Homo sapiens: one gene and its partners. The protein of the gene in region 6 purifies or fractionates together with the protein of the main gene of each other region. This does not show direct contact. Each region holds a gene or a part of one and is shown on either strand. Other genes may lie near its edges. The genes, in order: ADPGK, OMA1, P4HTM, RIPK2, MSLN, GXYLT1 and SEMA6B.

The links.
Region 1: the proteins of GXYLT1 (region 6) and ADPGK purify together in Homo sapiens (affinity purification with mass spectrometry; one large-scale study listed by BioGRID and IntAct). This does not show direct contact.
Region 2: the proteins of GXYLT1 (region 6) and OMA1 purify together in Homo sapiens (affinity purification with mass spectrometry; 2 studies listed by BioGRID and IntAct, with this or other methods). This does not show direct contact.
Region 3: the proteins of GXYLT1 (region 6) and P4HTM purify together in Homo sapiens (affinity purification with mass spectrometry; one large-scale study listed by BioGRID and IntAct). This does not show direct contact.
Region 4: the proteins of GXYLT1 (region 6) and RIPK2 purify together in Homo sapiens (co-immunoprecipitation; one large-scale study listed by IntAct). This does not show direct contact.
Region 5: the proteins of GXYLT1 (region 6) and MSLN purify together in Homo sapiens (affinity purification with mass spectrometry; one large-scale study listed by BioGRID and IntAct). This does not show direct contact.
Region 7: the proteins of GXYLT1 (region 6) and SEMA6B purify together in Homo sapiens (affinity purification with mass spectrometry; one large-scale study listed by BioGRID and IntAct). This does not show direct contact.

The regions. Positions count from the first base shown.
Region 1 is NC_000015.10:72,773,276-72,777,380, forward strand, and holds part of ADPGK (ADP-dependent glucokinase isoform 4 precursor), read right to left. Parts: intron 1,823-4,105; coding exon 1,597-1,822; intron 1-1,596. UniProt on the Homo sapiens protein: Catalyzes the phosphorylation of D-glucose to D-glucose 6-phosphate using ADP as the phosphate donor. GDP and CDP can replace ADP, but with reduced efficiency.
Region 2 is NC_000001.11:58,484,227-58,488,331, forward strand, and holds part of OMA1 (metalloendopeptidase OMA1, mitochondrial precursor), read right to left. Parts: intron 1-4,105. UniProt on the Homo sapiens protein: Metalloprotease that is part of the quality control system in the inner membrane of mitochondria. Activated in response to various mitochondrial stress, leading to the proteolytic cleavage of target proteins, such as OPA1, UQCC3 and DELE1.
Region 3 is NC_000003.12:48,988,761-48,993,454, forward strand, and holds the start of P4HTM (transmembrane prolyl 4-hydroxylase), read left to right. Parts: upstream 1-1,480; 5' UTR 1,481-1,496; coding exon 1,497-1,850; intron 1,851-2,072; coding exon 2,073-2,154; intron 2,155-4,694. UniProt on the Homo sapiens protein: Catalyzes the post-translational formation of 4-hydroxyproline in hypoxia-inducible factor (HIF) alpha proteins. Hydroxylates HIF1A at 'Pro-402' and 'Pro-564'.
Region 4 is NC_000008.11:89,760,477-89,764,581, reverse strand, and holds part of RIPK2 (receptor-interacting serine/threonine-protein kinase 2), read right to left. Parts: intron 1,754-4,105; coding exon 1,600-1,753; intron 1-1,599.
Region 5 is NC_000016.10:763,349-766,767, reverse strand, and holds part of MSLN (mesothelin isoform 1 preproprotein), read right to left. Parts: intron 3,127-3,419; coding exon 3,077-3,126; intron 2,746-3,076; coding exon 2,625-2,745; intron 2,122-2,624; coding exon 2,042-2,121; intron 1,862-2,041; coding exon 1,732-1,861; intron 1,659-1,731; coding exon 1,465-1,658; intron 1,242-1,464; coding exon 1,151-1,241; intron 1,078-1,150; coding exon 978-1,077; intron 710-977; coding exon 531-709; intron 434-530; coding exon 278-433; intron 125-277; coding exon of another isoform or gene 101-124; coding exon 1-100. UniProt on the Homo sapiens protein: Membrane-anchored forms may play a role in cellular adhesion. Megakaryocyte-potentiating factor (MPF) potentiates megakaryocyte colony formation in vitro.
Region 6 is NC_000012.12:42,099,535-42,103,639, forward strand, and holds part of GXYLT1 (glucoside xylosyltransferase 1), read right to left. Parts: intron 1-4,105. UniProt on the Homo sapiens protein: Glycosyltransferase which elongates the O-linked glucose attached to EGF-like repeats in the extracellular domain of Notch proteins by catalyzing the addition of xylose.
Region 7 is NC_000019.10:4,552,796-4,556,900, forward strand, and holds part of SEMA6B (semaphorin-6B precursor), read right to left. Parts: intron 3,295-4,105; coding exon 3,193-3,294; intron 2,770-3,192; coding exon 2,679-2,769; intron 2,301-2,678; coding exon 2,181-2,300; intron 1,682-2,180; coding exon 1,593-1,681; intron 1-1,592. UniProt on the Homo sapiens protein: Functions as a cell surface repellent for mossy fibers of developing neurons in the hippocampus where it plays a role in axon guidance.

The DNA of each region.
Region 1 (4,105 bases), on a different chromosome or scaffold from region 6:
TGACTAACCTCTGAATTCAGGTGGGACAGTAATAGCTTTTTAGAGATAATTTAAAACTTTCTGTGATATGTAGGCTGAAATTTGGCCCTTTAACATGTCAGCCTTAATGTTTTATTCAACCACGATAGTTAGAATTTACTAAAAAAAATCTTGGGAAAATAGTAAGATATCTACAAAGTGGATTTCAGAATTTTCATATAATGTTTATCAACCTGCCTTAAACTATAAGGAAGTATGAAAAGGCACTCCTCTAGTGAAAGGGGTTTTACAATGTTAAGAAATAACCTGGACCATCACAAAGCTAGATCAAGTTGCTGTAAAAATTTTTTTCATCAAGAAATAAAGGCAGAATCAAGAGAGAAGAGAAATCAAACTGGTGGTTTAAATTCCGTAATCATAAAGACTTTTGAGCAGTGAACTCATCATGTTAGAACTATCGAGATTCTCTCATAAGAGATAAGAATCTCACTACTGATCCCAGTTGTCAAAATGATAACTGAAATCTTAACTTGCTGTCACCTTTAGAAACTCAGCTAGGTAATGCCTATGTCCATTTCTAATGTTCAAATAGGCAGCTTCGAAGACAAAAAACTTATTTTTAAAATTTTTTTGAGACAGGGTCACACCCTGTTGCCCAGACTGGAGTGAAGTGGCACGGTCATGGTTCACTGCAGCCTTGACCTCCCGGGCTCAGGTGATCCTCCCACAGGCACATGCCACCATGCCCAGCTAATTTTTTGTATTTTTTGTAGAGACAGGGTTTCACCATGTTGCCCAGGCTGGTCTCAAACTCCTGGGCTCAAGCAATCCACCTGCCTCAGCCTCCCAAAGTGCTGGGATTACAGGCGTGAGCCACTGTGCCCGGCCTAAAATCTTAAGTCATCAAAATAAAAGTAGTCACAAAGGTTTGCCTGTGAAAGGTGCCAATTAAAAATGGCATTAAGAGCTTCCCTGGCTAGAACTACCAAACCAGACTGGGTGCCCAGCCAAAGGGAGGTTTAAATGAGGAGGAAGAATGGGGTGGGGGCAAGACATGGGAGATAACCAACCAACCAAAACTCAGCCTCAAGAGGCATGAGGGTACATGTAGGAGCAGGCATACTGGGGTGAGGTAGGAAGAGCCATGGTTGGGTCTCCAGCCCCAGCACTGCCTCTTATTCCACGTGAACCTCCAGGAAGTGCCTGGACCATGCAGGGCTTTGTATATAATCACCAGGTGAACTTGGAAACCACTAAGGTTCTAACTTCGACAGGTTCTACCTTGCAGACCAGTGGTTCTCAAAAGGAGGTTCTCAGACCTACAGGATCAACCAGGAAACTTGCTGGAAAGGTAAATTCTTGGGTCCCATCCCACATCTACTGAATCTGAACTCTGGTAGTAGGCCCAGAAATCTGTGTTTCAACAGCCTCTCCAAATGATTCTGACACATGCTCAAGTCTGAGAACCATCAACCTAGACCCACAGTTTTCAACCAGGGGTGATTTTGCTCCCCTCCTCTTCAAACTGGAATGAAAAGTTGCTTGCTTGCTTCTAGGAACCATATTAAAAAGGCATCTTTTTCCACCCTTAATTTACTATTGCTGAACCAAACAGACCTGGGCTCCTGGGAACTCTGATGCAACCTGGGCAATGTCGTGAAAAGTTTCCTTATCACTGAAGAAGCGCTCAGCAGCTGCTCCCTTCCCCATGAAGTGAATGAAGGCTTCTTCCAGATCATTCCTTGAATGCAGAATGCTGTGATCTTTCCCATTCCCAGGACTAAGGCCAAGTGCCTGCAAGAGCTTCACCCCTGAGAGCACCACATCAACACATGCATTGACTCTAGAAGGAGGAAAAAAACTGTGTGAAAGCAGCAGAAGCACCAAGTAGCCATTTTGCATTTAACAAAAGGAAAATGTTTCTCAGAACCTTATTCAACAGAAAAAACAGGAAGTAGGTCTGAAACCTGAATTGGGAAGTAAACAGCACATGGCAGGAGAAAAATTACTTTAACTGGATTTATGTATTAGCATCAGAACACAGGACTCTTCAATAATTTGGCAAACTTTTACACTAGTTACAAAGTGAGAAGATAGGTGCTTAGCATTTCAGAACAAAGCTACTGTAACAAAAATGTAACATTTCTGAGAAAAACGCTGGCAGAGCCAAACAGGATTCATGCTGGCCGTGTGACTTGGGCAAGTCACTAATTTCTCTGTGCCTCGGTTTCCTCATCCACAAAATGGCAATAATATGAGCATTTAACTCATAGAGCTATGGTTAAGATTAAATAAGTGAATGTATACTTAGGAACAGCAATTGGCGCAGAGTAAGCAAAATATGTGTTTCAGTCAAAGGCTAGGTATCAGGCATCTTCCCTCTAAAAACAAATGAGGATGGTAAGATACAATAAATTCCTAAATGCCTGAGTACTCCCAGCTGAAACCCTGCCTCTTAGAATTTAGTGGTGTTTTACAGACTTAGGCACACCTGCAGCATTTTAAGAACTCACCCTTTGGCCAGTGTTCACAGGACTGACCCATGAACGTTAAAGACCTGCCACTCCTGGTTGTCTCGATGGAAATTATAAAGTACAGGTTGAATCCCTTATCTGAAGTGCTTGAGATCAGAGTGTTTCCGATTTTGGAATATTTACATATACATGAGATATCTTGGGAATGCAACCCAAGTCCAAACACATTTCATATATACTTTATACATACAGCCTGAAGGTAACTTTATACAATGTTTTAAATACTTTTGTGCATGAAATAAAGTTTCTATTCCTTACGTGTGGGTGGAATTTTCACATATAAGTACTTAATATACATCAGTGGCATCATGTCAGTGCCCCAGAGTTTTGGATTTCAGAGCATTCTGGATGCTCAACTTGTACTAAGGTTGTCTGGCATGACCTCTCCTATGTGTGTATGGAGAAAGTCTGTCTTACATTTTCAGGGTTTCTTTGCTAAGTCATCCCTCTTTTAAAGAGAACGTTCAAATAATTAAGGTAGCTAGATGAGGTCTTCCCGCCCCTACCCCTATCATGGTCATCTTTATTCCTGCCTCTGCCTATTGGGATGTCATTCTGGCCAGTGAGGTTGGATTACCACACAGGCAGCTCCCAGCCGGCAAACTGAGACCACCCCTAGTGATACGGGTGACTGGGCTTCAGAGTTAATTCTGAGCAGCTCTGAAACCACAAGGTAAACTCATTAATAAAAATGTCCCAATGGATGAGATTTTGGTGTAAAATACATAGTTGTATTTCCCTTTTAGTCTCTTTCAAAAATGAAGAGGAATGAGACTGGGATGAAGAGGAATTTTACCAGGTATATTTCTACTTTTAACATGCTTGTATTCCTTTTAGAATTTTTAAAATGACATAACTTTAAAAAGGTTTGTATGCAGACTAGATATTATTTACATCACTTAAGGAAGATTTACAAGGGCAAGGAAGAGACATCCTCCCTCAAGACACAAAGAGACTGCATCCTCATTATAAGGGTCCTTTTTATTAATTCTTCCCCTAGGGATTCATGTTTTGAAAGGAGTTTTGCCTATCAAATAGCATTTAAATACTCAGTTTCTTGTTCAAGACACACATAATGACTCTGGTCAACTGGAGAAGCATAACCTAAGATTTACTATGCCTTTCAGTGCATAAAACATCTAGCTACTGTATTTGGCCCTTCTCTTTAAAAGAGGGATGATTTCTAGTAAAGAAACACTGAAAATATAAGCCAGAACTTCTCCATGACACACACAGAAGGGGCCATTCTGGACATGCACGTGGCAGTTGCTTAAAGATATGTTTAAAATCTTTCCTTTCACAACCTTCAATGTTAAGAAACCAAACACACCTTGCAAACTGGTCTCAATTTTACCTCAGACATGGTGCCCTTTATTTCTAATGAATGCAACATTAGATTGGTAGAATCAACAGGAATACAAGTATCTGTAGCTCTCAGACGCCAGTAGGTTCCTAAGTTTCAGACAGTGAGGGCTTGAGTAAGGAGGGATACCATTTCCTCCAGACAGCCCAGTCTAAAAAAATTGTATCCAAATGGATTTGGGTCCCGAGTCTGAAGAGTAAAGGTTCAGAAATGGAGGGAAACCTGTCTT
Region 2 (4,105 bases), on a different chromosome or scaffold from region 6:
CACAGTTGTGTCTATTTGGCTTTTATAAATTACCCTGCTATAAAAACTTTTCTTTAAAAAAATCTTTTCTCACCTCCATTTGGAGATATGTGAAGTCTAACACCCAAAATAGAATGATCTGATCAAAGAGTAAGCACAGGTAGATTATACTTTTTGTTATATAGGACCAAACTGCTTTCTACCAGAAAGGCTTTATCAACCTTTAATGTCACCAGTAATACAGGCATACTTGAGTTATTCACAGTTATTCACATAACATTTCATGACTTTTATATAGATAATTACATAATTTCAAACCTCAGAATCCTTAGAAAATATCAGCTCAATTTTACAGATGAGGAAACTGAGTCTCAGAGAAGTTAAATGCCGGGCAAGGAACAAAAAGCTGGCTTGGTAAATGTTTTTAACAGCTTTATTTGCTAAAACTTGGAAATAACCAAGATTTCCTTCGATAGGTGAATGGATAAACTGTGGGATATCCAGACAAAAGAATATTATTCAGATCTAAGAAGAAATTAGCTATCAAGCCATGAAAAGATATGAGGAACCTTAAACGTATATTGCTAAGAGAAAAAAGCCAATCTGAAAAGGCTACATGATTCCAACTATATGATATTCTGGAAAAGGCACAACTATGGAGACAGTAAAAAGATCAGTGGTTGCCAGGGGCTAGGGGGAGGGAGGAATGAGTAGGCACAGAGTGTATTTTTATGGCAGTGAAACTACTCTGCATGATGCTATAATGGTGGATACATGTCATTATACATTTGTCAAAATGCACTGAATGTACAGCACCAAGAGTAAACCCTAATGGACTTTGGGTGATAATGATGGGTCAACATAGGTTCATCAATTGTAACTAATATTATCACTCTGGCATGGGATTTTGATGGTATGGGAGGCTGTGAGTATGCGGGGACAGATGTATAAGGGAAATCTCTATACCTTCTACTCAATTAAAAGTTGAAGCTTTAGAGTCTAAAAATAAAAGAGTCTACTACTAAAAAAAAAAAAAAAAAAAAAAAAAAAAGCTGGCCTGGAAGTAAAAAAGCTGGGTTTAGAACCTGTTTTGTTTCTACCGCTTTTGCTCTACATGCTTTTTGTGCTCATGCTTTTTTGTATCACATGATATTTCTTGAGTAAATTTTTTACTGAATAAATGTACTTTGGAGATGTCTGAGCTAGGTTTCTTTAATTGCTAGAAACACTATATGTTCTTCATACAGGTTTTCTATCACTACTTCTTCATGTGTGAACTGTTTCTCCTCCCCAAATATCTATCAAGCAGAATCCTGTTATGACCATACATATTTCTATCAAATCTTCATCTACTTTGCATAGTAAGATTCTATTGGATGTCTTGGTAACTTATTTTTTCTTTTTTCCTTTCCTTTCCATATTCATTTTATATATTTCAGGGCGCCAATGTCTTTTTATTTTTATAAATTCTAATCTATCTTATTAAATATATCTTCATCTCTTCAAAAGTGAGCAAAATTTTCCTACCATATAGCTAGAATATGTCTTTCCACTTCCTTTACTTTGTTTTCTGTGTTTAACTCCACGCACTGCACATAACAGGCACTTAACAAACGCATGCTAAATTTTAAACAAACATTTATAGAACACCAGCTATGAATAAATCATTATGATAAATGTCATAGAGAAAATACTCTTAGGAGTTTATGGTTTAAGAAAAAGCAGGAATGTATTTTAATAGCAAGAATATATGGTTCTGAGAATCCTGAGGAAGATTTGAAGTTAAATATAGAATTAGCCAGCCTAAAGACTACAACTATGAGTGAAAGAAACTAACATCTACTGTTCACTTTCTATGTGCCTTTCACTGCGTGAGGTATTTTACACATCTAAATTGACATTGGAATTTGAACCACTTTTGAAATCTTGGGCCTGACATAAAATACTTATCATTAAAATGTCTATGCCAAAGAGAGGGGGACAAGGCAAAGAAGACAGCAGGACCTTACCTACAGAAATGCACAAGTATGTACATCCAACATCTAGGAGATATTGCTATCCTGATTTCACATATGAAGAAAACTAAAGGTTGGATTAGGTAACTTTCTCCAAGTTACATGGCTGAGTCAGAATTAAAACCGAAGACTCCTAAGACCACTGTTATCTTTATATTACTATTTCCTGCGACCATCTTTCTCCCGTTACCAACTATTAATGTCCTACATGCTAAATTTCTATAAGGGAGTGGAAGGACTGTTCAATTCTACTGCCAATTTTTCTATTTTTCACCCACTATTATATTGCTTATCCTGCCTATTATTACACATCATGCAATCATTTAACTAATATTCACTAATCATCTCAACTTCTCATAGGTACTATGGATACAGCAGTGTACAAAGGCCTTACACACTAGGGTAAAAGCCAATAAACAAATAAGGTAATTTTAGTTAAGTACATGAAGAAACTAAAGAGTGAGGTGTGTTGGACGGACAATGAGTACATGGAAGGGAAGCGATTTAAGATTATGGGATCAAAGAAAGCCTCCCCAGGACAGTGACATTTGCCTAAAGAACTGAGGGAAGAATGTTTCAGACAGAGAAATCAGCAAGTAGAAGAGCTGTAAGGAGGACACTAGCTTAATGGGGGACATACCCTGGTCTTGTATGTTTCCTAAACCAAGGAAAGCCTAAGGAAAGGGGCATGTGGTGAAGTTGGAGAGCTAGGCAGTGGCCAAATTACGTGCCTGGAAGACATAGGAAGAGTCTGGATTTTTATTCTAAGTTAGATGAGAAGCCACTAGAGGGTTTTAACCAAGGAAAGGACATTACAATGATCACTCTGGCTACATATTGAAAATAGGTTGTTAGGAGTTGAGGTGAAACGTGACATCGTGAGGTGAAAAGTGACAACAGGAAATGACTGCGGTAACTTGGGAGGAGATGATGGTGACTTTTACTAGGAAAGGAGCAGTGGCGAAGTTGAGAAGCCCACAGATTCTTAATGTACTTGTTAAAGCAGTCAAGATTTTTTCATGAATAGGACACAGAAGTGAAGGAAAGAGGAACTGAAGATGAGTCCTAAATTTCCTCTTCTGTTTTAATAGCTTTTCTTTTATGATGCTGCTCATGCATTTGAGGATAATTAACTTGCTCACAGTAAATAATTACTGTAATATAATATCGTATTGTCAATTAATGACCCCAGTCCATAAATTCTTTTAAAGTTATTGTTTTTATCAAATTGTCAAAACAAAATCATTTATGCTTGTAAAATGAATCAGAAACTTAATAACATACCTTTCTACATTTTGAAGGTAGAACTAATTAGTAACTAGGCAATTGTTCTCTGAACTTCTGAAAAAATTCTCCAAATTAAATCCCATCAGGGCTAGGCGTCCTTTTCTTTGCTAATTTATTATGACTCTATGGGTTCTAATAGTTTTTTAAATTTGATTTATTTATACCTTACTTCTTTCTAAAGTAATTTAGTAATTTGTAATTTGTAAATTAGTAATTTGAGAAGCTTCATTCTAGCTATAATTTCTACTCCTAGCTGCATCCACTCTAGCAATTCCCCTCCCCCCTCAACACACATATACTTTAATTACTTCTGATTTTGACCTGAGCTATTAATTAACATTATCTAACTAAAAATAACATTCTCCCAAATATTTCAGTTTTCTTGCATGTTACCGTACCTCTTCTCCTGATCCTATTTACATTTTACTTTGTCTAACTAATCTAATGATTATGACTTTGACTAAATTTCCCAAAGAATCAACTACTGTCATTTTGCTTATTTCTGCTTAATTTTATTAATTATATTTTCCCTATTTGAGACATTTATAGTTCTATATTTCTTTTCTCTTTTTCTAATATAGACATTTAAACTGATAAAGTTTTCTTTAAATACAGATTTAGTAAAAACTCATGAAAATATAACTACATCATTATAAAGTTCATTGATTACAAGCCATCCTCTTATTGTTTATAGATTTCTCTTTTGCTTTACATGTGCGGAATTTTAATTTTCATGTGGTTATCCATCTTTTAATTTTTGTTATATTAATTTTACTATACTATGTTCTGATGATTGGAACCATAACTTTGTTTTATTTATTTAT
Region 3 (4,694 bases), on a different chromosome or scaffold from region 6:
GTAGTCCCAGCTACTTGGGAGGCTGAGACAGGAGAATTGCTTGAACCCGGGAGGCGGAGCTTTCGGTGAGCTGAGATCACACCACTGTACTCCAGCCTGGCGACAGAGCGAGACTCTGTATCAAAAAAAAAAAAAAAATTATAATTAAAAAATTAAAACTAAATAATAATAAATAAAAATACAAAAAAAAAAATTGGCCCGCCATGGTGGCGCATGCCAGCTACTTGGTAGGCTGAGGCAGGAGAATTGCTTGAACCCGGAAGGCAGAGGTTGCAGTGAGCCAAGATCGCGCCACTGCACTCCAGCCTGGGCGACAGAGTGAGACTCCGTCACACACACACAAAAAATCTTAGAAGAAAGAGGTGGGCCTGCCCTTGGAGCCCCTGGCCTGCCTTGACTTGAGGGGACTAGAAAATGCAGACTATGCTTTGCTATGGGGAAGGGAGAGGAGATGGGAGTAGAGGTAGTGGGGGTCTTAACCAGGGTAGGGAGAAACCACCAGTGTGACCTGCCTTAAAAGTGTTGCTCTTGCCTGCAAGTCCACCTCGGGGAGGGGGGTCAGCTTCTGCCCTGAGGGCGTGTAGTAATCTCTTCCTGAGGATAACCAGCTCTAGAAGAGCAGGGATGCCTTGGCACTTGACCACTGGTAGGTATGTCCTCCCCCCACCCCCGTTTTTGGTGATAATCTGTTTAATTTTTCTCTGAGGTAATGGTGTCTCAGTTATGGAAGAGTCCCTTCCCGCCTCTTCACACGTGCCAGCTTTGATGCAAGGAGTGTTCCATATACCTGAGCACTGGTTCATTCCTGCGGGCTGCCATGGGGGGCTCACTTTCCTGATGCCAGGGCTCCTCCAGGATGCCCCCTCTGACGGCCTATGAAACCTTGCACATCAGGCAGCTTCTTCCTAAGGCCTGCCTGACTCCGGCGAGACTTCCCGGGAGATCCGGACCGACCGCGGAACCGAGCTCCAAGAATGCCTGCGAGGAGGCTGTGGGTCCTACCCTATCGCCGCTTACGCAGTCCCAGCCTCCGCGGCGCCCCCAAATGCCGCACTGTTGAGTCATCTCAGCGCTGCCTCCTCCGCGCTGCGCTCCCCACCCCCGCTCCTGGAGCAAGAAGATGCAGACGATACTTTTCCCGGAGGCAAGAGGGCGTCTTCACGCAGGCACCGAGAAGCTCCCACTAGTGTATGCCTTAATGGTGCCGCTCTTGTCCGCGTCTACGCTTGGGACCTTGGCTTCTGACTTGGAGAGTGTACAGCTCTGCCCGACGGCAACCCAGCTTGGGAAGAGAAGCCCCAGCGTGGGCTGGGGCTCAAGGCGCAGGAAGGCCGAGCCCGGCGCGGACGCAGGCGGCTCCGGGCGGGCTCAGCACCCCCAGGCACCGTCTCCTAGTGACCGCGGCGCTCGCGGGCCTGGCGGCCGTTGTCCGGGCGACTGCGCAGCGCGGGCACCCCCGCGGCCCCTCCCCTGGGCGCGCGCGCGACCTGGGTGCCATGGCGGCAGCGGCGGTGACAGGCCAGCGGCCTGAGACCGCGGCGGCCGAGGAGGCCTCGAGGCCGCAGTGGGCGCCGCCAGACCACTGCCAGGCTCAGGCGGCGGCCGGGCTGGGCGACGGCGAGGACGCACCGGTGCGTCCGCTGTGCAAGCCCCGCGGCATCTGCTCGCGCGCCTACTTCCTGGTGCTGATGGTGTTCGTGCACCTGTACCTGGGTAACGTGCTGGCGCTGCTGCTCTTCGTGCACTACAGCAACGGCGACGAAAGCAGCGATCCCGGGCCCCAACACCGTGCCCAGGGCCCCGGGCCCGAGCCCACCTTAGGTCCCCTCACCCGGCTGGAGGGCATCAAGGTGAGGACCTCCCTGCCCCGCCGCGCTCCAGGCCCTGCACGGCTGAGCCCGAGAGGACCGGCGCTCAGCCCGGGTCCCCACGCTGCCCCCGGCGCTGCTCTGCGTCGGTCCCGCGCGCTCCCACTCACTCGCCTGCTGTCGCTCTCCGGGCCGGGGCGACTTGGCCCTTCTTGGGCAGCGCGGTCTGGCGCCCCAGCTGCCCGCTGTGCGCCTTTTCCTTAGGTGGGGCACGAGCGTAAGGTCCAGCTGGTCACCGACAGGGATCACTTCATCCGAACCCTCAGCCTCAAGCCGCTGCTCTTCGGTAAGTCCGCCAGATACTCCTGGGAAGGGCCAGGGGCTGCGGTTTGGTGGCCACCTTGAGGCTCGTTGTGACCACGTGACCTCTATTTTGAAAATGGCTGCTTCAGAGCAGCCCTTCCAGAGGATTACCAAAGTGAAGGACCTTCCCCGTCCTCGAAATAGGGTAACACTCCCTCTTATCCCAACTCCCTGCAGTCCATTCTTCCATCACAGGGCTGGCAGGGTGAGCCTGAGGCTGGTGTCTAAACGTTTCATTGCACCTGTCTTCCGTGCCACCATTAATTCTGTCACCTTCTAGAACTGGGAGGAAGGTGGGAGACTGATAACCAGCTTTCTGCCGACCTCAGGACCTCTGGGGAAAATCCCACTGCCGAAGTGGGCCTTGTGGTCTGATGAGAAGCAGGCCGTCCAAATGTAGATAAACTGGTACCCCCCCAGCCTCCTCCACTGGAGTACCAGTCAGAGGCTCAGCTTTTGCTGCCAGCACTCTGAGATTCTTCTTAAGGTGAAGTCTTTGTTCAGCCATCATGGGCAAAGCTTTCTAGGGTGACTCCAGTTGGAGCCACAACATAGCTCATCGTTTCTGAGCTCTAGTTATGTGCTTGCCTTCATATGATTATTTCATTTAATTCCTGCAACCCCTCTGTGAAGTGGGTGTAGATCCTACTCAGGCCAGTGAGGGGGAAAGTTAGGGACAGAGAGCTGCTGTGGCTTGGCCAGGCTGACACGGTTACTTCAGTGGTGAAGCTAGGATTAGAACCCACATAGCCTGCCTCTAAGGCCTATGCAGTAAAGCCACAGTGCGAGCTGTGAAGACCCCAGAGTCCTTCAAAGACCACCAGTGTCAACTGGGTGGGGACCCCTAGTCCCATGGACATTGTCCAGGGTGTTTGTGTAGCCCAGCCCTGGGTACCTGGCCTCCGTGACAAACATATTTGCAAACCCAGGGCCATTCCTGCCTGCCGGGGGATGGAATGGGTTAGGAGCTGGGGCCAAAGTAGAACATCTGAGCACAAGTCATTACCTCCAAGGCAGAGGGTCCTGGTTGGGGATTATGCCTAGACCTGTCAGAATGATGTCATATGCATGCTGTTTGTAGGGAAATAGATTATGCTGTCAGTCCTGTTGTGGGAGAGGCACCCAAAGCTGGTTGTTGTTATTATTACTATTACTATTGAGTAACGTTGAAGTCTGTGCCAGGCACTATTTTAGGTGCCAGGAACACAGCATTGAACTAAATATAAACAATGAAACAAAACCCTGAAGCTGACATTCAAATGAAGAGGAAACAGACAATAAACAAACAAATAAATATATACATTGGTGTGTCAGATGGTGATATGTGATTGCAAACAAGTAAGGCAGATTTTTTTTCTTTTTTCTTTTTTGCCAACATAAAATAGCAGACAGGGCCGGGCGTGGTGGCTCATGTCTATAATCCCAGCACTTTGGGAGGCTGAGGCAGGCAGATCACTTCAGGTCAGGAATTTGAGGCCAGCCTGACCAACATGGTGAAATCTCATCTCTACTAAAAATACAAAAATTAGCCGGGTGTGGTGGTGTACACCTGTAATCCCAGCTGTTCAAGAGGCTGAGGCATGAGAATTACTTGAACCCAGGAGGCAGAGGTTGCAGTGAGCCAAGATCGCACCACTGCATTCCAGCCTGGGCAACAGAGAGAGACCCCTATCTCAAAGAAAAAAAAAAATAGCAGACAGTAAGGCAGAAGTTCAGCTGGGATTAGAACTCTTTTTTTTTTTTTTTTTTTTTAGACTAAGTTTCTCTCTTGTTGTCCAGGCTGGAATGCAATGGTATGATCTCAGCTCACTGCAACCTCCGCCTTCCGGGTTCAAGTGATTCTCCTGCCTCAGCCTCCCAAGTAGCTGGGATTACAGGCATGCGCCACCACATCCGGCTAATTTTTTGCATTTTTAGTAGAGACGGGCTTTCACCGTGTTAGCCAGGATGGTCTCAATCTCATGACCTCAGGTGATCTGCCCTCCTCAGCCTCCCAAAGTGCTGGGATTACAGGTGTGAACCACCATGCCTGGCTGGAACCCTTAATAAGGTAGCCAAGGTGGACCTGCCTGAAAAAAATATTTGAGCAAGGCTGGGCGCGGTGGCTCACGCCTGTAATCCCAGAACTTTGGGAGGTCGAGGCGGGTGGATCACCTGAGGTCAGGTTGTTCGGGACCAGCCTGACCAACATGGGGGAACCCCGTCTACTAAAAATACAACATTAGCAGGGCGTTGTGGCACATGCCTGTAATCCCAGCTACTTGGGAGGCTGAGGCAGGAGAATCGCTTGAACCCAGGAGGCAGGGGTTGTGGTGAGCCAAGATTGTGCCATTGCATCCAGCCTGGGTAACAAGAATGAAACTCCATCTCAAAAAAAAAAAAAAAAAATCTGAGCAACGACTTGTGGGAAGTATGGGATAAAGCCAGATGACTGTCAGGAAAGAGGGGTCCAGGAAGGAACTAATACTCACCCCATTACTACTACACTACTAACGACTACTATGAACAGACACATCTGAGGAG
Region 4 (4,105 bases), on a different chromosome or scaffold from region 6:
CTTCCCAGGAGAATGAACATACTTTGGAAGATCAGGCAATTTGGGAAGATCCACGATGAATCACCAGGCACCATACCACATTTTTCTAAATGCTATGAAAAAGACTGCTTCTACTGAAAGTACAAAACTGTTCTTGAGAAGTTTTTCTGCAAATGCGTCAGCTTATAGTTCAGTGATCAATCTGGCAGGGGGAGTGGTTCAAAATATTTTAGACTGTTTATGATACATCTTGAGTTTTCTCAATGAATTTTGTGAGGTTGGGGGAGGGCACTTCAAGATAAATCCCACCCTAAATAATGCAATACAGGAAACCAAAAGAAACACAAAAAGCTGACGTGGAACATTACTTTCTCTGGCATACACAGAGGCCTGTCCCCTAGAGAAACTTAATCTTTTAATCTGTAAAAAAGGTAACTTTTTCTGAAAATTATGCAGTTTAAAGCAGTTACCAGGCCTCTCTGCAGCATAATATAATATGGGGGCTTGTGATCATGGAGACAAGGGAGAGAAGTGCTCACTGTATATTTTATGATTTTTTTTCCAGGAGTTAGCAATCCCCCTTGAGGAGGCTGTAGAATTTCCAGCGAGCTGCAAATTTGGGTGCCAGAGTATCTGCTGGGGTGTGGGAAGAAAATGTTAGATTTCTACTTATACTCATTTCTCAACAAAAATAAAAGAGAAATTGTGATTTATTAATATTTGTATCTTGGCTCTGTGGTAGTTATACAAATCTTACAGACTGACACCAGTTACTTATTCCATCCTTGTTTCAAATGGTCACAAGTCATGAATAGAATGTGATGTATTCTGAAACTGAGAGGAAGTTACTCTATGACTGACTGACAGTGGCACCCACTTTCCCTTGGCCACTTACAGGGCATTGTGTTACACTATCATTTATGAGTATCTATTGATTGGATTTTGTAGATTAATACAGTTTTAATTAAGCCAACCCTCAAAAAATGGACCAAGTAGTTTAAAAAGATCTACTGAAACTACAGACTCATGATAATATTAATAATGAATACATGTATTTTGAGAATGAGGACCCCTGAATTTGTTTACTCAAGGGATTCATAATCAAAGAGAGAGTGACTGGTACCTTGGGAAAAAGGGTAAATGGCTGATACCACTGTCTATTATTAGAAAAGCTAATGTATCTGGTATTCAGAGATAATTTATTAATATTTGGCCTGCTAATTCAGAACTTTATGAACTGGTATTAATAACATTAAATTTGAATTTGAAATTGCTATTAATATAAAATAAAATATCACTTAACAGTGGATTTTACAGTATGCAGAGTTTATCTCTTCCATTTCTACCCATGTAATATGCATGTAAATACTATAATTTGGTATAAATGTTAGGAATGGTAACCCAGGCAAAATAATCTAGAGTACAGGGCCTGAATCCACAGTGTTTTAATCAACACAAAAATGTCACAAAAGGTAAAATTTTATCCCTGTGATAGTTTTTCATTATTCTTTGATTCATCTATATACCCCTAAATAATCTGACCAAATATAAAATCAAAGTAAAATATAGTTTGAATAGTAAAAATGGCAATTATGGCCACTAAAACTGTGTAATACTTACCCTATGTAGGAGTTCATTTAATGATCCATTTGGCATGTATTCAGTAACTATTCCCAAAAATTCAGGCTCATTGCAAATTCCCAAAATTGGAAGAATGTAACTAAATCTAGCTTTGTGTAAAATTTCAGCTTCTCTTAAGACATCCTTTCTTTCACTAAGAAAAAAAAATGCATAATTATTCAAGTAATAAAAAAATATACAATTATCATGCCTATAAGACTAAGCCTGGATTTTTTTTCATTAATTAGCTATGTGACCTCATGTAAATTATGCAACTTCTCTGCACCTTAGTTTCATCATATTTAAAATAGAAATAATACCTACCCTATATATTCCACAGGTCTGTTTAGAGACCAAACTAACTTCTATAAGCCATTGACAGGTAAAAGTGCTAAACACAGGTTTATTATTATTGTACTTATCCCAGGAATGGGAAAGAACATAGTATTAAATTTATAAAGTCTATCTATGTTAGAACAATTGGTGCTTGAACTAATTACATGATTAAGTTTACATTGTATTCAAATGAGCATGTTTTATTAGAATATTATATTAAATTTTATGGTTGCATACCATATAAACATTTTCCAAATATCCTGAATATTAAAACCTTTAAATGTTATAGATTCAATAGCTGCATAAAAGTCAGTAATATTTATAAATTATATACCAGAACTCAGGAAAAGATCACTGAGAACAGGTAAATGCTCAATAATATTAATAGACTGCTGGGGTAACTGGCTCCCAGGTTCATTTGTTTATTCATATGTAAAACAAATATATATTTAACTATTTTTTTTTCTATTTTTCTTTGTCACCCTGGCTAGAGTGCAGTGGTGTGATCACAGCTCACTATAGCCTCAAACTCCTGGATTCAAGCCATCCTCCCACCTTAGCCTCCCCAGCAGCCAGCTAGCTCCACAGGCATGCAACCGTGCCTATTTTTTTTTTGTAGAGACAAGGTCTCACTATGTTATTCAGGGTGGCCTCAAACTCCTGGGCTCAATTGTATCAGACGTCCAATAGGTAGGTATCAAATGATTTCAAGGAAATTAAAGGGAAGGCTAAAGTTGGGAAATTGTGAATTGTTTAATGCACTCCTTTTATGTAATATAAAAGGAGTGAAGGTGAATAAGACAGGTTAGGGACATATCTCAGTCTTAAAGCCTGGTTAGGGTGGTGAAACTTCACTTAGCAGTCACTAAGTGATTGACGGTTTGTTTGCTTTTTTTAACATACAGAATACACACTGGAAACTTTTTTTTTTTTTAACAGACCAGATCTTGCTATGTCGCCCAGACTGGCCCTCCCTACTCTGCCTCTTGAGTAGCTGGGACTACAGGGGTGTGCCAATGTACCTGGTGTGACTGAAAGTTTTTGAGTTGGGGAATGACAGTAGAATACAATTTTAAGATGATCAATTTGGCAACAAGATGTAGGATTAGTAGAAAGTGGTAGAGTTTGAAAGTCAGGTGTTAGGAGATTTTAATACCAGTTAATACATGAACCTAAAACTACAAAGGTAGCAGTGGAAATGGAAAGAAAAACACTAAGTGAATAGAATGCCCGCGTTGTAGTGACTGACTGTAGGGGGTTAAAAAAAAAATGAAAAGGAATTGGAGATGTCATTATTTTTTTACCCTGAGTGACTGGATGTTGGCTGCAGCAATGACAGAAATAGAAATGTTTCCAGGAGAAGCCTATTAGGTAAGTAATGATGATAAGTTAGTTCTTACACCTCCCAAGCTCTGAATGAATGGCTGTTGAAATATGAATAGCAACAGACATTCTAGACCAGACTAAGAGGACTACTTTTAAAAACAAACAAAAAAACAAAGCAAAAGAATCTTCGTCATTTATTTTTTGAATAGGTCATATATTTATATGTCTTAAAATTCAAGAGTAACAAGAAGGCATAAAGTGAAAAGCTTCTCTCATTCTCTGTCCTTCAATCACTTAATACTCCAACTGCTAGGAAACCAGTATCAGTTTGTGAGACCCATTTTAATTAAATGTTTATTCCCTAGATGGAAATAGTTCCATATCTGCCCCAAGAGATTTAGGCCAACAATAGAGGATGACCCTGAAGATTCCTGGATACTAAGAACAATAGAGAGTGCATGCTGCAGAAGTCTCAGTGACACTTCACACACTCTTTCCTCCTCCCATTAAGAGGCATTCTTCTTTCCACTGTGACCCTATTACATGTCAGTCACTTTATATGCACTAGCATCTTAAGATCACCCTCTAAACATAGTTTCATTAGCTCCACTTTATAAATGAGGGCACTAAGGCTCAGAAAAATTAATACTTTTCTAATGGTCACACTAATAAGTGGCAGGGTTGGCGTCAGATTTGAATTGCAATCATGGGACATTAAAGCCTGCATTCTTTCTACCCTATTGCTTGATCAAAGAATATAGTAGGAAAGTTCTTGAAGGTAGATTTTTGGCAAGATTGAGTGAGTGGGAAATTTTTTTTAAAGCCAAAAGATTTTAAAAATTGA
Region 5 (3,419 bases), on a different chromosome or scaffold from region 6:
GGGAGCACAGGTACCCAGGGTAGAAGGCGGTCAGGGTGTCTAGGGTGTCTTTGTCTAGCTGGCCCCTTCCCTTCACAAAGCGGTCGATCAGGGTGGCCACCTGTGGGAGGGGCCGCCGAGGAGCCTTGTGGCAAGGAGAGATGTATCCCTCCACCACCAGCATAACCTCAGGCCGTGCCCCTGACCCCAGGCCCGCCCAACCTCAGGCTTTGTCCCCCACTCTGCCCCTCAGCCCTTCCCAATCTCATGCCACATGACCCCCGAGCCGGACGGTCACCTGAGGACTCATTTCGTGCCCTTTGTTGACTTCAAGCAAAGCCTTCAGGGTCTCCAGGGACGTCACATTCCACTTGCGAATGTCCTCAGGGCTCATCTTGAGGAAGAGGTAGCCCAGGTGCTGGATCACAGACTCGGGGTAACCTTGTGGGTAGAGCTGCAGGCCAAGAGACCAGGAGGGCCCATGTCACTCCCAGAGGGGCTGGGGATGGCTTGGACACAGCAGGCCGGTGGGAACTTGAGTCATGAACTACCTCATCCAGTTTATGCTTTAGGACGTCCAGCTGCTCGTAGGTGAAGGGGATGGCGTTCACGCGGTCCATCTGGGTGGCCAGCAGGGCCGCATCCACGCAGGCTTCCAGCTCCCACTTCTTGTAGAAGATGAGGCTCTCGTCTATCTCGCGGGCCTTCTTGCCTGAAGGACAGGCTGTCTCTGCAGGGCACAGGGGTCAGGGGTCAGGGCCGGAGTTCGTTTGACCCCTTCTTCCTCCCACACCTCCTGTGAGATGAGACCTCGGGCCATTTGTGACCCTCCCTGTGCCTCAGTTTACCCACTGGCAAACAGGGATTCTGTCCACTCTCTGTGATTATAATGGGATGTGCTGCAGAGCCAGGGAGGGGCAGGTGAGACCCTAAAGTGATGCCCACCCCCAGGGGTGCTGCCCAGCCTGGTGCCAGACTGCGCAGGGCACGGCACTCACTCTCCACTTCCCGCCGGAACCGCGGCCGGAGGATGGTCCGTTCAGGCTGCCGCCAGGATGGGTCCCGAGAGGAGCGTTGCCGCCACGCGGCCACGATGCCCTGAGGACGAGCAGGACCTGGGCTGAGCCTCGGGTGGCCGGGCATCCCCACGGGCTGGGGATTGGGGTCTCACCTGCGGGATGCTGCGGATGATGGGCTGGCCCAGCACGGGCAGCAGGCCCCGCAGAGCGTCCATCGTGGAGACAGACCATGTCGACGGGGGGCTGTGCAGACACGGGACACAGCTCAGGGACCCCCCACGTGCAGCCCCAGAGAGGGAAGAGGCCAGGCCGTACCCCCTGGCTGTGGAGGGGACGCTGGGGGCATTGGCAGGGGTGGTGGCGGGGGTGACTGACCCTGGGCCTTGAGGCATGGCCGCAAGTGTCCTCACGCTGCTGATACCACGCCGCCAGGTGAGCCTTCGAGGTTCCAGACACCTTCACTTACCCGTAGGGGGGTCCCCCGCCCTGCAGAGCCGCCCTGGCTGCCTCCTGCTGGTCCTGGTCCAGGGGTCCCGGGCAGCTCACCAGCCGGGGTAGCAGCACTTCGGCCGACTCGGCCACAAAGCGCCCAGGCAGGTCGCAAGCCAGGCCTCCCAGAGCCCGCACATCAGCCTCGCTCAGCAGAGACCCCCGCACACCCTGCAGAGAGGCTGGCCTCAGCGCTTTTGGAACTGCCGAGCCCTCTCCGCCCCGCGCTGGCCCCAGCCCCTACCCAGCAGGCCAGAGCCGCAGGCAGCAGCCGCTGTCGCTCGGGAGCCCCCCTCGGGAGCAGGTCCACATTGGCCTTCGTGATGCGGGAGAAGAAACGGGTGCAGGCCTGGGGCCCCGAGAACGCATCTGGGCTGTGAAGAGAGGGTGCTGGGGACAGGCCGCACTGATCACACCCGTCCCCACCCTGAGAGGCAGCCCGGCCGGCCTCCACATCTCTGCTGTGGCCTGGGATCCGAGGCAAGGGGCAGGGGGTTGGGGGCTGAGGGCTGGCGGCAAAAGCCGGGGGGGTGGGTTCAGGGGGCAGGGCCTACTTGAGGAATAGCAGCAGGTCCAATGGGAGGGCGTCCAGGTCCTCGGGGGGCTCAGAGAGCCGGTGAGCCAGACAGCGCAGCTGCAGGGGCAGGGAGTCCAGCACAGAGCGTTTCGAGCCGCCACTCACATGGTGGGCCAGGGTCGCCTGGCCAGTCTGCCCACCACAACACACCCCTGCCCTGGCCACGAGAATCTGTGGAAGTGGATCTCTGGCCGCCTGCAGCGCTGCCCTGGGGGATGGGGGCTCCCGTGCCTGGCTCCGCTCCCCTTCCCCAGATCTCACCCACTCCCCCGAAAAAGATTCACCCTTGGGGCAGAGCCTGGAGGGCTGCCCACGGCGCTCCAGGAGGGGGCCCAGCACACAGCGTCATATCAGACTTGCTCCTGGGGAGCCAGCCCCTGACGTGGACAGGCACCCCAGTGGTCAGCTTGGGTGGCCAGAGGAACTCTGGGAAGAACTGGCCGGGGAGAGATGGCAGCAGGGACAGAGGGGACCGTGGTGGCAAGGTGGGCACTGCAGAGCTGCCTGTGAATTCCTCAGCCCCAGCTGTGCCCACCTGCCTCAGCCCAACTGAGACTGACCTGCTCTGTTGAGAGCTTGACATTCTTCTGTGCCAAGGCCACAGCCAGCTCCCGGACACGCTCCGTGCTCAGGCCGGACACCTCCGCACACGGGAAGCCAAGGAGTTGGCGAGGGGAGAGGCTGCAGGAAGGGTCGGGCTGGGCACCCACGATCGCCCCTCCCCTGCAATGTCCACCCAGTGCTCCCCAAGCCCCACAGCCCCACCTCTCCCCAAAGGACCCTGGTGCTCCCTGCAGACCTCCCCCCAAGACCAGGTGACGCCCTCAAGGGCCGGGAGTTGCCATCACCTGAGGGGTGTCAGTCCCTCCCGCAGTCCTGAGCCCAGTCAGATCTGAGGTGGAGCAGAGGAGGAAGGGGGAGGGGATGCTGGGGGATGGGGTGCCCTGCCCACCCTCAGTCCCGAGGGCCCCTCGAGCCTCACCCTTGAGGACTGTGAGGACCCCAGACCCACCTGGAAATGTTAGGTGGGTTGGCCAGGACTCCGTCCAGGGGCGCAGCCTCCTGGGGACACAGGGCCTGCTGAACATGGCTCAGACCAGCTCTCTGGAGCAGGAGTTCCCAGGTCCCGCTACCCCTGGGCCAGGTACTCCCCGAGTTCAGCTACTTCCCAGGCCTGGCTGTGTCTCAGACCCATGGGCTTGGCTGCTTCTCATCCATCTACTTCCCAGACCCAGCTGCAATTTCAGCTCTGCCGCTCCCTGGACCTGGCTGCTCCCAGGCCAGTCACATGCAGGTCCAGGTGCCCCTTTGCAAGCAAGGACCGTGGAAACTGGCAAGCACCGTGGATACGTGAC
Region 6 (4,105 bases):
GAGAACCACTATTTAAATATTACTTAATAGTTATGATGTCAGGCACAGCGACTCACGCCTGTAATCCCGGCACTTTGGGAGGCCGAGGCAGGCTGATCAGTTGAGTTCAGGAGCTCGAGACAAGCCTGGGCAACATGGTGAAACCCTGTACCAAAAGTACAAAAAACTAGTCACGCATGGTGGTACACGCCTGTGGTCCCAGCTACTTGGAAGGCTGAGGTGGGAGGATCACTTGAGCCTGGGAGGTGGAGGTTTGCAGTGAGCCAAGATTGTGCCACTGCACTCCGGCATGGGTAACAGAATGAGACCCTGTCTCAAATAAAAAAAAGTTATGGTAATATTAATAGATATCCTTATCTTCATTTTAACTGGAAAGCTCCTACTGTTTAGCCATTAAGCACAATGCTGCCTTTTGAAATGAGATAAAAATATAATACTAATAATCTATCAATTTATATTTTATGCTTTTTTAAAATAAAAAAGATACTGAATTTAGTGCTTTTTCAGATACTGAATGTAATGCTTTTTTCTTAATGCTCAAAACTTGTTATTTGAAAACCCAAAGTTAAATACTTAAGGGAGCAAGAAACTGAGTCCAATGAGAACTTGGTGTTGGAAGGGGTAGAAGTGAATACCGGGCCTTTTAGATCTATGTGACTCGGGGACTATCCAGAGTAAAAACCAGTATTCTTCATAGTGCAGTTCACAGCAGTTCACATAGTGTGCTACTATGTAAATTTTTTCTATGTCCTCAATAAGATTAAGTAATTAAGTATAGAAATTAAGAGTAAGATTTAGAAACTTTTACAGCAAGTTAACAGTTTTATGTGTACTTAATATATTTCTCTAGTAATCTCTCTTTTACAAAAGTATTGGCTCATAACATACTGAAAATTTTTTAAAAATTAATCTTTTGCCATAGTTTGAGAAACATTGTTATAAGTCATTTTATAATTTATATTAAATTCAGTGACGATATAAACAATCTATCCTTTAAAAAAGAGAAGGCCAGAATTCATGAAAAAAAAAAAATCCACATACTTAAATTGATGTGCTACAACTGCATTATTATCCTTGTGTGAAATTTCTTAGAACACAGTAAATAGTAATTATAATCAGAATTTTTTTTAATCTGGAAAATGACTAAAACAAGTTTTACTTAAGGAAACAATTTGAAAAGATAACTCTTAGAAATAAGTCATTGAGTATGTTAAGGAAATATTCTTAGGATCTGAAAAGAAAAATATCAATTACACAAGGACAAAAACCAGGAACACTTTCAACAGACAGAACTGGTGGAGCCCTTGTACAACACCATGTTAAAGTCTTCATGTGATTCTATCTATTCAAATATACACAGAAATACAGATACATATTTAAATTATAAAAACCAATATAAATCAAATATATATATTTGAATATATATCTTACAAGAAATGTACCTATTCAAAGAGCATCAATGAAATACAAAATTAAGAGTTCACTGCAGTCTTAGGAAAAAAATAAAAAGGGAAAAAAACCTTAAAGAAAAAAGTCCCATTAGAAAACTATTTGGAAAAGAAGCGATAACGCTAGTATTATTTGCTAATGATATAACCTAGATTATCCAAGACAACCAATGAAAAGCTATGAGAAATGAGTTTAATAAAGAGGTATTACATATAAAAGGAGTTCAAGTCAATAAGAAAGAGAAAACCAAGAAGTGGGCAAAGGATATGGGCAAGCAGCCATTCACAAAAGAAGAAACAGAAATGGCTACAAATTATAAGAAAAGATTTTTAACCACACCGGTAGTATAGTCAAGAAAATATGAATTTTAAAATATATTTTCAGCCATACAACTACATATCCATACTAGGTACACACAAAAAGAGAAAATAAAATCATCCATTCTCCACATCATACACACATTAAAAATGTGATTATGTGTAATGACATAGAAGTCAGTCAACTATATATTTACTAAATGAAAAAAGCTGAAGATGTATAAAAGAATCCTATATCTAAATGCTAATGCACACCTATGCTTGTTTCAAAATACTTTTTTTTTTTTTTGAGACAGAGTCTCACTCTGTCGCCCAGGCTGGAGTGCAGTGGCGCAATCTTGGCTCACTGCAACCTCCACCTTCTGGGTTCAAGTGATTCTCATGCCTCAGGCTCCCGAGTAGCTGGAATTACAGGCACCTGCCACCATGCCTGGCTAATTTTTGTATTTTTAGTAGAGATGGGGTTTCACCATATTAGCCAGGCTGGTCTAGGACTCCTGACCTCAAGTGATCCACCTGCCTCGGCCTCCCAAAGTGCTGGGATTACAGGCATGAGCCACTGCACCCAGCCTCAAAATGCACTTTTTAAAAGGTCCAAAGAACACATAGCCAAGTTTATAGTGTCACTCTGGGTGGAGGCATGAAAGTGTGAAGAGATATGTCAAGGGGAGACCTGTCTTTTCATTCTACATAAAATTACTTTTTTGAATCTTTATAAGCACAATTTAGTTTCATAACATTTAAAACAGAAAACTGTAGTTCTAATTTTACAAAATTTAGCAAACCTATGACCAAATACATGTATGTTACATCAAGATCAATTAGTTTCATTTTTTGAATTAAGCATGCTTTGAAAATGAATGGACTGTCATTATCAGCCTGTCCTATACATACATATAAAATTAAAGCGCATTCACATTATGCTCCAACAAAAAAGTGGGAACTCATCAATTCCCAAAGATTAGTTACTTCACTTTAAAAAGTTCTACCCCTTTGGCAAGATGTTCGTTGTTGTTATTCTGCTCTCATAAGCTATGTACTAACACAAGAAAACTCTTTATCACATACATCTTACAAATATGTAAAAGCATTGTATCTACTTCATACAAAGTGTTCCCTTTTCCAGTATTTTTCAATTCATTAATGGCCTAGTTTCTAAAACCTTCATCTGACTCTCCTTTGCTAGCAATTATCTATCAAGTTGCTACTTTATGTCAGACACTGTGCTAAATATTCTTAATATAAAGCTGTATAAAAGACACATCCTGCCCTCAGTAGGTGGAGCAAACAGACAAAAAAATACTCTACAAAATAATATATAGAAAGCTGAAAAGGGCAGAGTAAACAAAGAAAAAATTCCCACCATGTCTAATTTATACTCTTTGGTTTTTCTCTAATAAACAGGAAAAGGCTAAGAAATACAGTAATACATTTTTTAGAAGGAGAGAAAATAAATACCCTAATAGGGATTCAACACGGCAAATACGATACTGCAAAATAGAACGTAATCATTTAACCAATGTTATTCATTATCTAGCAAATATACAATTATGAGATTAAAAATTATGATTTTTAAAAAGTTGTATTTAATATTTAATTTAATTTAATAATTATTTCATTAAATTAAATTATTTGAATTTAAATTTTTTAATTTTTTTTTTCTTTTGAGACAGAGTCTCACTCACATTGTCACTCTGTAGCTCAGGCTGGAGTGCAGTGGCCCAATATCAGCTCACTGCAACCTCTGCCTCCCTGGTTCAAGCAATTCTGTCTCAGCCTCCCAAGTAGCTGGGAATACAGGCATGCACCACCATGCACAGCTCATTTTTTCTATTTTTAGTAGAGATGGGGTTTCACTGTGTTGGTCAGACTGGTCTCACACTCCTGGCCTCAAGTGATCCACCCACCTCGGTCTCCCAAAGTCTTGGAATTACAGGCGTGAGCCACCACACCTGGACCTATTTTAACTTTTTAATATACATAACTATAATACACCAGGTTCGAAATGAACAGCCACAAGTAGTAAGAACCAGGTGACAGCAAGGCAAATAAATAAACTATGACCTTTGTCCTAAATTTTTATTGTGGCTGTACATGGGTTAAGAACCATGAAGCAACAATCGTGGATCTGTATAAAACAGTTTGGAAAGTGATTATAAGTAACTCAGTTATATTGCTAAATTTCTAAAATTTAAGATCTGTGCTAGAAACTGTAAAACTGGTAGGAAAAACCAAGACAATGTTTTGCTATAGATATAAAGATCAAGAAAAATAAAAATATATGAGAAAAGGAATTAACAATCAATAAATTTTGCAGGACCATCTCGACAATCCTAAGT
Region 7 (4,105 bases), on a different chromosome or scaffold from region 6:
TCCCTGGCAGAAATTCCCGGTGGGAATGTCAATGATGATAATAGCAACAGTGACAACCATAATCATCACTGTTTCCACGAAGACCCACATTTTATTCTCACATCTCTTACACTCTTCCCGAGGGGGGCCTACTGATATCCCCCCATTGTACATGTGGGGACACTGATAAGAGGCACAGATAAAAGGAAGTGACTGGTCCAAGGTCACAATAGTAGTTAGTGGCAGTCTGTGCACTTCAGCACTGCCTGGTTGCCTGGATGGACGGATGAGTGGATGAGTAGATGGACGGACGATTACAATGGAGGGATGAGTAGGTGGATGGATAAATAAATACATCTGAAGAAGGATGATAGATAATGGAAGAGATGGTGAAGGAGAACAAGGTAATCAAGCAATTGGTAGATAAGTAGATGGATGTGTGGGTGGATGGATGAACAGATGGATAGAGAGAAAGCTAGGTGAGTGGATGGATGGATGCATGGATAGGTGAATAAGTGGATGAATGAATGGATGGATAAGTGGGTGGATGGATGGATGGATGGATGGATGGGTGAGTTGGGTGGGTAGATGGTTGGATGGGTGAGTGGATGGATGGATGGATGGATGGATGGATGGATAGGTGAGTTGGATGGGTGGATGGTTGGATGGGTGAGTGGATGGATGGATGGATGGATGGATGGATGGATGGATGGATGGATGGGTGTGTGGGTGGATGGGCAGATAAATGGATGGATAGATGGGTGGGTGCATAGATGATGAGTGGGTGAATGAGATGGATGGATAGATGAGATGGAAGGGTGGATGGATTGGCAGATGGATGGATAGATGAAGGATGGATGGATGGGTGGGTGGATAGGTAGATGGATGAATGGATGGGTGGATGGATTGGCAGCTGGATGGATGGATGGATGTGTGGATGGATGGATGGATGGATGGGTGGGTGGGTGGGTGGGTGTGTTGGTGGATGGGTAGATAAATGGATGGATGGGTGGATGGGATGGATGGATGGATGAATGGATGGGTGAATGGATTGGCAGATGGATGGACAGATGATGGATAGATGGATGGATAGGTGGATGGACTGATAGATGGATAGGATGGAAGGGTGGCTAGATGAATCGATGGGTGGATGGATGCATGGACAGATGGATGAGTGCACGGATGGATGGTAGTGGGTGGATGAGTGAGTGGGTGGGCAGATGAGTAGATGGATTAATGGGCTCATGAAAGTGTGGGTGGGCTGAAGAACAGACAGATGGGTAAGTGGGAGGGTGAGCAGGTAGACGGATGGACAGGGGATGAAGGATGGATAAGTGATTGTGGCTGGGTGGGTGGGTGGACAGGTGAACAGCAACAGCACCAGGTGTATCTGACTTCCAACTCAAGTCCCTCGTCAGGGCTGAGTGCTCCACGGCTGCTCCGTAGATGTCTTCAGCCTCAGGGCCTGATCATGGCTGGAAAGGAGGCCCTGGGGACCAGAAATGGAGGGCAGGACCCTCTCACCCCATGCAGGGATTCATGGATCCACCTCTGCCCCCTCACTTCGCATGATCAGAGCCTCTCAACTTCATGCCCCACTGCACCGGCCTCACCTTCTCCAGGTAGTTAAACTCCATCGCAATCTCCCGGAAGAAGAAGTAGACATGGCTGCCCCACTCCACCGCATGGACAAAGTAAGGCTCTGCAGGACAGGAGGGGTCAGAACTCAGCCCCTGACATGACAAAGGGGGTTTCTGGGGCTAAGAACTCACTGGCTTTTATGGTGAAGGGGGGACATAGGCTGGTTACCCAGACAATATGAAACAGACTCAAAGTTTGGTATTTTGCAGGGGAAGGGAGGTCAGAAGCCTAAAATCGCTGTGTCTCTTGCTGCAAATGGCAACATCAACTATTTTTTGTTATCTTCCTCCCTCATGTGTTGAAGAGCTGAGTCCTGCTATATCTTTTCTGTGGTTCCATTTTGGGCTTCTAAGCCACCCACTTCCAGCGGGTTCTACTTTAGATCCAACTAAACTTGTTCCTCTAGCTTTCTAGTCTTCAAAAAGGCCAACAGATTCCAAAGATGTGGTGGAAATCTCTCCACCAAGCTCCTCTGGGACTCTTATTCTGGTGGGGAGATTTGATGAATGTCAGGTTCTGGGCCCTGCCAGGTCTGGGCCCACTGCCCTTCCTGGTCTCACCTTTGAACCACTTGGAGTCATGTTTCACGGTGCGCAGGGTGGGCCTGTCCCCGAGGCTGCGGTAGATGACAGCATCAATGGCTAGGAAGTCGGTAACAGTAGCTGTGAAGAGCATCCCGTCTGGATGGGGTGGGTGGGGAAGGCAGGCAAGAGATGAGACCGCAGAGGCCAGGGGCTGGGTGGGTCGAAACTCGATTTTCTGAGACTGAGTCCTGAGCCTAGGGGAGCCCCTGTCTCCAGGCTGAGCCCTGATCCCATCCAAGCCCCACCTCCATCCAAGCCCTGACCTTAACTGAGCCCCTGACCCCGGCTAAGCCCCAAATCCCGCTGAGCCTCAATCCCAGCTGAGCCCCAAACCTGGGCTGAGAGTCTGCCCATGTCACAGCTGGGACAAGTGGTCGTCCAGCTGCCTTCTAAACAACCCAGACGCTGGAGTAGAAAATGCCAGGTCTTGCCTGTGGCTGGGGCTGATCAGATGGAGGTTGGGGGGGTACTTACCAGAGAAGAGGGCAACATTGGCGTGCTTGGGGTCGTACGGGCAGCGGGCCATACCGCTGATGTTGTCTCCGACGGGCTGCAGGGTGTCTATCTGCAGGGACCATGGGGCCTGAGTGACAGATCTCCTGACCCCACCTAGCAGCCCCTGGCTCCCTCAGCCCCCCACTCCAGGGGGAATCCTGATCCACCACGGATTACTGTGTGACCTTGGCCACTCACTTAACCTCTCAGGGCCTCAGTTTACTGATCTGTAAATGGGTTTAAGAGTCAATGCCTAGTTAGACCTGTAACTGGCTCATTACCTAAGTAGCTACGGCTTCCCCGGCCCCCTGTACAGGCCTCGTTTGGACAGCGCTGACTCCTCTTGAGCTCAGGGGGAGGAGGCAGGGAGAGTATATCCAGGAAGGCTTCCTGGAGGAGGTGACACGGCCTGGGGAAAAGCCATGGCCAGCGGAGGTCGGGCGAGCAGAGGCCTGGAGGTTGGACCTGGGGCGCAGGGAGTCTGAAGACTCACGCTGTAGTTGGCGCACACCGGGTTGAAGGCGTTGGAACCGCACACAAAGAGCGTGGACTCGTCCCGAAGGAGCAGCACCTTTACGAAGTTTCGACACTCGCCCTGAGGTGGGGACAGGAGGAAGCGGGGAGCGCGATGTGGGCGTGGTCATGGTGATGGGCGTGGCCAGAACCTGAGTTGTGTGGGTGGAGGGCCGGTCTGTTGTGGGCATGGCCAAGGCAGGGGCTGAACCTAGGACTGGCTGGGGACACGGTGCGACCCAGACAGGGAAACACTTTGTATCAGCAACGCAGGCAAGGCCAGGATGGTGGGCATTGTCAGACTGTGGGCATAACCATGGCAATAGCAGAGTCCTAACCTGGGATGGAGGAGAAGGATCCGCCCTGGGTGTGGTCACGGCCGATTGGGGTGGGGCATGGTCGTGACCAGAACTAACTGGGGCGTGGTGGGCACGGTTATAGCTGATTGGGGCCAAGTTGGGAGCGTGGCCAGAGCTGGTGGGGTGGGCGTGGCCTGGGCTTATTGGGGCGGGCCGGGGGCGTGGGGGGCGGCAGGACTGATAGGGGAGGGGTCGGGATGGGGACCTGATCGATTGGGTGGGGAGTGAGCTATTGGGTGGCGTGTGAACATGGCCTGGGCTTGTTGGAACGAGGCTGGGGGTGGTGGTAGGACTGACAGGGGCAGAAGTGTGGGCATAGCCAGAACTATTTGGGGCGTGGTTATGGATAATTGTGGCTAGGCTGGAGGCCGGGCTAGGACCAATTGGGTGGGGACGTGGACGTGGCCATGGCTGTTTGGGGGTGTGGCCAGGGCTGGCAGTTGGGCGGGGCCAGGGCTGATTGGGGGTGGGTTGGGGCGTGGCCAGGGCTGGCGGGGTGGGCGTGGCCTGGTCTGATTGGGGCGGGGCATGGGT